Homo sapiens: one gene and its partner. The protein of the gene in region 1 interacts with the protein of each later gene in a biochemical or structural test. Each region holds a gene or a part of one and is shown on either strand. Other genes may lie near its edges. The genes, in order: SYMPK and CSTF2.

The links.
Region 2: the proteins of SYMPK (region 1) and CSTF2 form a complex in vitro, tested with the Homo sapiens proteins (one study listed by BioGRID).

What each region holds. Positions count from the first base shown.
Region 1 is NC_000019.10:45,856,548-45,860,363, reverse strand, and holds part of SYMPK (symplekin), read left to right. Parts: intron 1-3,816. UniProt on the Homo sapiens protein: Scaffold protein that functions as a component of a multimolecular complex involved in histone mRNA 3'-end processing. Specific component of the tight junction (TJ) plaque, but might not be an exclusively junctional component. May have a house-keeping rule.
Region 2 is NC_000023.11:100,830,331-100,834,146, forward strand, and holds part of CSTF2 (cleavage stimulation factor subunit 2), read left to right. Parts: intron 1-477; coding exon of another isoform or gene 478-537; intron 538-719; coding exon of another isoform or gene 720-892; exon of another isoform or gene 893-1,178; intron 1,179-1,184; coding exon 1,185-1,326; intron 1,327-2,403; coding exon 2,404-2,579; intron 2,580-2,849; coding exon 2,850-3,142; intron 3,143-3,816. UniProt on the Homo sapiens protein: One of the multiple factors required for polyadenylation and 3'-end cleavage of mammalian pre-mRNAs. This subunit is directly involved in the binding to pre-mRNAs.

The DNA of each region.
Region 1 (3,816 bases):
GCCTCAGCCTCCCGAGTAGCTAGGATTACATGTGCCTGCCACCATGCCTGGCTAATTTTTTTGTATTTTTAGTAGAGATGAGGTTTCACCATGTTGGCCAGACTGGTCTCAAACTGCTAACCTCGGGTGATCCACCCGCCTTGGCCTCCCAAAGTGCTGGCATTATAGGCTTGAGCCACCGTGCCCGGCCGTGTTCAATATATATTAACTGATTATTTTTTCTTTTTTTTTTTTGGAAACAGGTTCATCAGGTTCATGCTCTGTTGCCCAGGTTGGACTACGGTGGCCCAATCATACTTCACTACAACCAGGCTCAAACAATCCTCCCACCTTAGCCTCCAGAGTAGCTGGGACTAAAGGTTCATGGCACCATGCCTGGCTAATTTTTTTTTTTTTTTTTTTTTTTTTTTAGATGGAGTCTTACCGTGTCTCCCAGGCTGGAGAGCAGTGGCATGATATCGATGCCCAGCTAATTGTGCATATGTCTAGAGATGGTGTGTCGCTGTGTTGCCCAGGCTGGTTTCAAACTCCTGGCCTCAAGTACTCTTCCTGCTTCAGCCTCCCAAAATGTTGGGATTATAGGCATGAACCCCTGCACCTGGCCTTCTTTTTTAGTTTTTAGGCCTAGGCTAGTCCTGAACTCCTGGCCTCAAGCCATCCTCCCACCTAGACCTACCAAAATGCTGGGTTTACAATTGTGAGCCACTATACCCGTCCTATTTTTGTTTTCTTTCCTTTCTTTGTTTTTGTTTTGTTTTATTTTTGAGACAGAGTCTTGCTCTGTCATCCAGGCTGGAGTGCAGTGGCGCAATCTCGGCTCGCTGCAACGTCTGCCTCCCAGGCTCAGGTAATTCTCATGCCTCAGCCTCCCAAGTAGCTGGGATTACAGGCATCCATCTCCATGCCCAAGTAATTTTTTTGTATTTTTAGCAGAGACTGGGTTTTGCCATGTTGGCCAGGCTGGTCTTGAACTCCTGGCCTCAAGTGATCTGTCCACTTTGGCCTCCCAAAGTGCTGGGATTACAGGAGTGAGCCACCACACCATGCCCTTTTTTTTTTTTTTTTTTAAAGACTTGTCAAGTGCAGTAGTGAGAAAGGGGGAAAAAGTAGAACAAGTATAGCTATTAGGATTCAAGAGTGAAAGGGCAGGAATACTGAACCCAGTGATTGGGGAGGCCGTTTGGCAGTAGTGTTCACTCATTCAGCAGATGTTTATTGAGCTCCTGCTAGGTGCCAAGCACTCTTCCGTGCTGGGAATATAAAAAGTGAAGGAACAAAATCCCTGTTCTAGGCCGGGGGCGATGGCTGAGACTTGTGATCCCAAGCACTTTGGGAGGCCAAGGAGGGTGGATTGCTTGAGTGCAGGAGTTCAAGACCAGCCTGGGCAACATGGCGAAACTCTGCTTCTACCAAAAAATGATTTCAAATAAATAAATCACTGTCCTCGTGGAACTTATAAATATGTAGTGTGTGATGATGATAAATGCTATGGAGAAAAAGCAACACAGATGGGGATCGAGAGGAAGTTAAAATTTGAAATATGGTCGTCGGCCGGGCGCGGTGGCTCATGCCTGTAATCCCAGCACTTTGGGAGGCCAAGGCGGGCGAATCACCTGAGGTCGGGAGTTCGAGATCAGCCTGACCAACATGGAGAAACCCCGTCTCTACTAAAAATACAAAATTAGCCAGGCGTGGTGGCACATGCCTGTAATCCCAGCTACTAGGGAGGCTGAGGCAGGAGAATCGCTTGAACTTGGGAGGCAGAGGTTGCTGTGAGCTGAGATCACGCCATTGCACTCCAGCCTGGGCAATAAGAGGGAAACTCCGTCTCAAAAAAAAAAGAAACATAGTCGTCAGGGAAGACCTTACTGCAGAGACATGTGAGTGGAGACCTGAAGGAAATGAAGAGGGAAGGAGTTGTGCTGATATCTAGGAGGAGGAATATTCCAGGCAGACGGAAGAGAGGCACAAAGTCTTTGAGGAAGGGGCATGTTGGGCATGTTCACAGGACAGCGAGGAGGCCAGAGTGGGTGGAGCAAAGAGCCCAGGGGGAGAGGCAGTCAGAGGAAGAACAGGCCAGATGCCATAAAATCTTGTAGGCCTTGATGGGGACATTGGCCCTGACCCTGAGCAAGATAGGGGGTGACAGGCAGCAGGGAAACTAGGGAGGAGGCTGTGGCTCGTCATTCATTGAGGAGACCCCTATCATGTGATACTACTGTGAATAGCTATTGGGTAGTTCCTTTTAAAAAACGTGTCATTTTCGGCTGGGCGCTGTGGCTCACACCTGTAATCCCAGCAATTTGGGAGGCCAAGGTGGGCAGATCACCTGAGGTCAGGAGTTCGAGACCAGCCTGACCAACATGGTAAAACTTCGTCTCTACTAAAAATACAAAAATTAGCTGGATGTGGTGGCACATACCTGTAATCCCAGCTACTTGGGAGATGAGGCAGGAGAATTGCTTGAACCTGGGAGGGTGGAGGTTGCGGTGAGCTGAGATTGTGCCATTACACTCCAGCCTGGGAAACAAGAGTGAAATTCCATCTAAAAAAAAAAAAAAAAAAGTATTTTCGGCTGGTTGCGGTGGCTCACGCCTGTAATCCCAGCACTTTGGGAGGCCAAGGCGGGCGGATCACGAGGTCAGGAGATCGAGACCATCCTGGCTAACATGGTGAAACCCCGTCTCTACTAAAAATACAAAAAATTAGCCGGGCGTGGTGGCAGGCGCCTGTAGTCCCAGCTACTGGGGAGGCTGAGGCAGGAGAATGGTGTGAACCCAGGAGGCGGAGCTTGCAGTGAGCCACGATCACGCCACTGCACTCCAGCCTGGGCGACAGTGCAAGACTCCATCTCAAAAAAAGAAAAAAGTATCATTTTCACCGTCCTCAGATTATTGTTTTTTTGGCATGTTTGTTTGTTTAGTGTGTGTTTTTTTTTTTTTTTTTTTTTTTTTGAGACAGAGTCTCACTCTGTCGCCCAGGCTCGAGTACAGTGTTGTGATCTCAGCTCACTGCAAGTTCCGCTTCCCGGGTTCATGCCATTCTCCTGCCTCAGCCTCCCGAGTAGCTGGGAATACAGGCGCCCGCCACCATGCCCGGCATATTTTTTTGTATTTTTAGAAGAGACGGGGTTTCACCTTGTTAGCCAGGATGGTCTCGATCTCCTGACCTCCGTGATCCGTCCGCCTTGGCCTCCCAAAGTGCTGGGATTACACGTGTGAGCCACCGCACCCAGCCTTGTTTTGTTTTTAAGACAGTCTCATTCTCGTCCAGGCTGGAGTGCAGTGGCGTGATCTCAGCTCACTGCAGCCTCTGCCTCCCAGGTTCAAGTGATTCTCCCACCTCAGCCTCCCAAGTAGGTGGGATTATAGGTATGCGCCACCATGCCTGTCTAATTTGTATGTTTTTAGTAGGGAACAGTGTTTCTCCATGTTGGCCAGTCTGGTCTCGAACTCCTGACCTCAGGTGTTCTGCCTACCTCAGCCTCCCAAGGTGCTGGGATTACAGATGTGAGCCACTGCACCTGGCCTGTTTGTTTCTGAGACAGGGTGTTGCTCTGTCCGCAGGCTGGAATGCAGTGGTAGGGATCACAGCTCACTGCATCCTCCACCTCCTGAGCTCAATTGATCCTCCCACCTTAGCCTCCCAAAATCCTGGGATTACAGGCGTGAGCTGGCCAAATTATTATTAATTATCATAATTGTTGTTAGCAGTTTATGCAGTAGCCTTCAGATCTTTTCCCATGTACATAAAAATAATAGTATACTTAGCCAATGTTTACTGTATATACTAACTCATTTAATCCTCAAAATAGTC
Region 2 (3,816 bases), on another chromosome or scaffold:
AAATAGAATTGCCGTACTTCAGTTATGGCCGTTTCAGAATGAATCTTGCCTTCCAGATTCAGTGCAGTTTCTTTTATGTTTTGCTTCTGAAACTACATTTATGTTCTTTGCATAACTAGAAGATTCAAAACTATCCTTTTTATATATTTTTTTCCTAATGATTTCATAAGGAGACCTAACGGAAAACTAGTAGCAGAGGTGAAAATCGAAAATGTCAGGTTATTCCCACCTAGATCAAACCAGTGCCCCCATGGGATTCCCTTTCAAAAGCTATCTGGTCAAAATGGAACTATTTCAGAGACCCAAAGGAGCTAGTGTAGTTTAGGGAGATTTTGTAGCCTGGAGCAAGCCGATGAACTCTTGGCTTTTTAACTTATATATGTAAATCTCAATCTCCATGTGTGTGTGTTTCTGCGTGTGTATGCAAGCTATTTTAAGTGTCTGCTCTTTCTCCTTTTGAACTTACTGCTTACCTAGGAACCCTACAGCACTCGCCCGTGGGACCCGCCGGGCCTGCATCAATTGAGCGAGTTCAAGGTACCCATTGTATCTGTGGGTTTCCTTTTGCTTGTGGTGTTCAGGGTGGGACGTTGAGAGGAAAAGAGCTGCGTGGCAGTCATCCTCGCGTTCAGAACCCAAAAGGGTAGTGTTTTTGGGTTTTTGTTTTTTTAATTTTTTCCTGTTGAGGCCACAAGCCTAAGATTGACCTCTTCACACAGGGCAGAGAACATGGATGATATGGGCATCTGTCCGAGGCTGTACTCCCTCCCTACTGGTGTCAGGAGGCTTGGATGGAATAGCAGTCTGTAAGGAGACAGCGGGTTCTTGCAGAGCCATGGCAGTGTTCACATATGCCAAGACTCTACCTCTGTTTTGTGACTCTGGTCCTTGAACTAAGATTGATTAGAAGGAAAACCAGGAGCATAAGTTTCTCCAGGTCGCAGTGCTAGTCCTTGGCAGGTTGCTCCCCAGTTTGCTCTTTATATAATTCCATCCATACCTCTGACATGGCACAGATTCTGCCTACACCCTGCTTCTGTTCTTGAGCTGCAAGAGGATTCTGCTGTGGTGAGGTTTCACCCACTCTAAGGTGTCTGAATTATGTTGTCAGTGGTATATAGAGTCATTTCTTGTTTGCTTATGTGTCTTTCACAGCAGTAACTCCCCGTTTGTTTCCCTGTCAGTGCCGATGCAAGACCCCAGAGCAGCTATGCAGCGGGGATCCTTGCCTGCGAATGTCCCAACCCCTCGAGGCTTGTTAGGAGATGCTCCGAATGATCCACGGGGAGGCACTTTACTTTCTGTAACTGGAGAGGTAGAGCCTAGGTAAGCACTAACATAGAAGGAAACAGTTGAAGAAATCAGAATTGTCCCTTCTTCCCTGAGAACAAAATCTTTCTGTACCAGTTGTACCTGTTTGCCTACTTCAAAAGGTAGATCAATATTCATGGCCACTGTCCAAGGGTAAGCACTTCTCCTAAGGCAGAACTATGTACTTGAGTATGTCATTTTGAGCTATTATATTTTTAGAAATTGGAAATTTTAGTATACATACTTGAACAGGGAAATTTATAGTAGTGGAAATATTAATAATAGCAATAATAGGCCGGGTGCAGTGGCTGACGCCTATAATCCCAGTACTTTGGGAGGCCAAGGTGGGTGGATCACTTGAGGTCAGGAGTTCGAGACCTGCCTGGCCTACATGGTGAAATCCCATCTCTACTAAAAATAGAAAAATTAGCCGGGCGTGGTGGCGGGCGCCTATAATTACAGCTACTGGGGAGGCTGAGGCAGGAGAATCGCTTGAACCCAGGAGGTGGAGGTTGCAGTGAGCCGAGGTCATGCCACTGCACTCCAGCCTGGGCAACAAGAGTGAAACTCCATTTCAAAAGTAAATAAATAAATAAAATAATGATAGTAATAATAATTGACATTAATGGGGATCATGCCTCTGACTCTGCTCTGAGTACTTTACTTAGATCATCTTATTAAATCCACAAGATCCTGTGAGATGGATACCATTATTAGTCCCATTTTACACGTGAAACTGATGTGTGGAAAAGTTAAATAATGTGTCCAATATCACACAGCTAATAAGTGATAGAGCCTAGATTTGAACCCATACAGTCTGAATCCAGAGCTCATGTTCTTATGCATTGTTCTGCAAACTCATACATATAATGAATATTCGTTGATTCCTCCCTAATTATGAACCAAATAACGAAATTCTAGAATACATGGATTTATATCTCTGTAGCTTTTCTTCCATCTATTTGGTGTTATTTTCTTGTTAGTATTCATAGACTACATCAGCTCTTTGTTGGATGTTTACTTACTGATCTGGTTGGTACTTTGTTGTTGTTTTGTTCTATTTTAAAATACAACGTTTTTCTCCATCTCCAGAGGTTACTTGGGACCACCTCATCAGGGTCCACCCATGCACCATGTCCCTGGCCATGAGAGCCGAGGACCACCCCCACATGAACTGAGGGGAGGGCCATTACCCGAGCCCAGACCTCTAATGGCAGAACCAAGAGGACCCATGCTAGATCAGAGGGGTCCACCCTTGGATGGCAGAGGTAAGGGGAGATCACATTGCAAATGCCATAATGAACTCAACTGTCTTAGGCTCTAATCTGGGATAAAGAATGCTGGAACAGTAGGTTTGCAAGCATCTTTAAGGTTTATCCACAAATCTGAGAAACTGGGGAGGAGACAATAGTCTCATATGTTAATAGCTGAGGGGACAAATGTGACTAGAAGAGATTTCTATCTTTCTTGGATTGTTCATCATTCTTGCAGTACATGCAAGTAGCTACATAATGGTTTTGTTACATTTTTCTTTATAGGTGGAAGGGATCCCCGAGGAATAGATGCACGAGGGATGGAGGCCCGAGCCATGGAGGCAAGAGGGTTAGATGCCAGAGGATTAGAGGCCCGTGCAATGGAGGCCCGTGCGATGGAAGCTCGTGCAATGGAGGCCCGAGCGATGGAGGCCCGTGCAATGGAAGTCCGAGGGATGGAGGCCAGAGGCATGGATACCAGAGGCCCAGTGCCTGGCCCCAGAGGACCTATACCTAGTGGAATGCAGGGTCCCAGTCCAATTAACATGGGGGCGGTTGTCCCCCAGGGATCCAGACAGGTATGTGTAACACTGACTTCTGGCATCCAAGTGAAATCTTGATCTATTCAGGAATTGATTATTGAGCCTAATTATTACTGCCTTCTGACTTGGGCTGTTTCTTAGCTTGTTAGAAAGGGAAGACTTGGATCTCCCTGTAGCTTCTCTGTCCCTTAGGGTGGTGATTTTCTGGCTATCAGGATTGTAGTTCAAAAAAAAACAACCTTATCCCACAATAAATAGCTATTCATTTGGAGCAGAGCCCCTGAAAATTTAGGGGTTAGAAAGTAGTCTTGATTGGGGTACAAACCAACATCATGTACACGGTTTTTTCCAAGATATACTTGCCCGGATCTCATCCGAGGTATAACTCAGAATCTCTTATTAGTAGGATCTGAGCATGGATAGTTTGAAAAACTTCCCCCAAATGATTCTAATGTGAACCCTGACTGGGAACCACTGGGTTAGAGTATATGAAGAGCTGTTAGTGGCCATTTAGATAATCTTAGGTTTAGAGAGACCTGTGTTAATTTATTGTCATCACATAGCCTAAGTGAACAGTGGAATGTGAAAGGCAGTTTATTAATAATCACCTTAAAAGGTGTGGAACCGAAGTCTTGTCTCCTCTCTTTTATTTGGATCTCTCTGCCTGTGTGTACATGCTCCCTCTTCATCTCGACTTGGTTGTGGAGAGG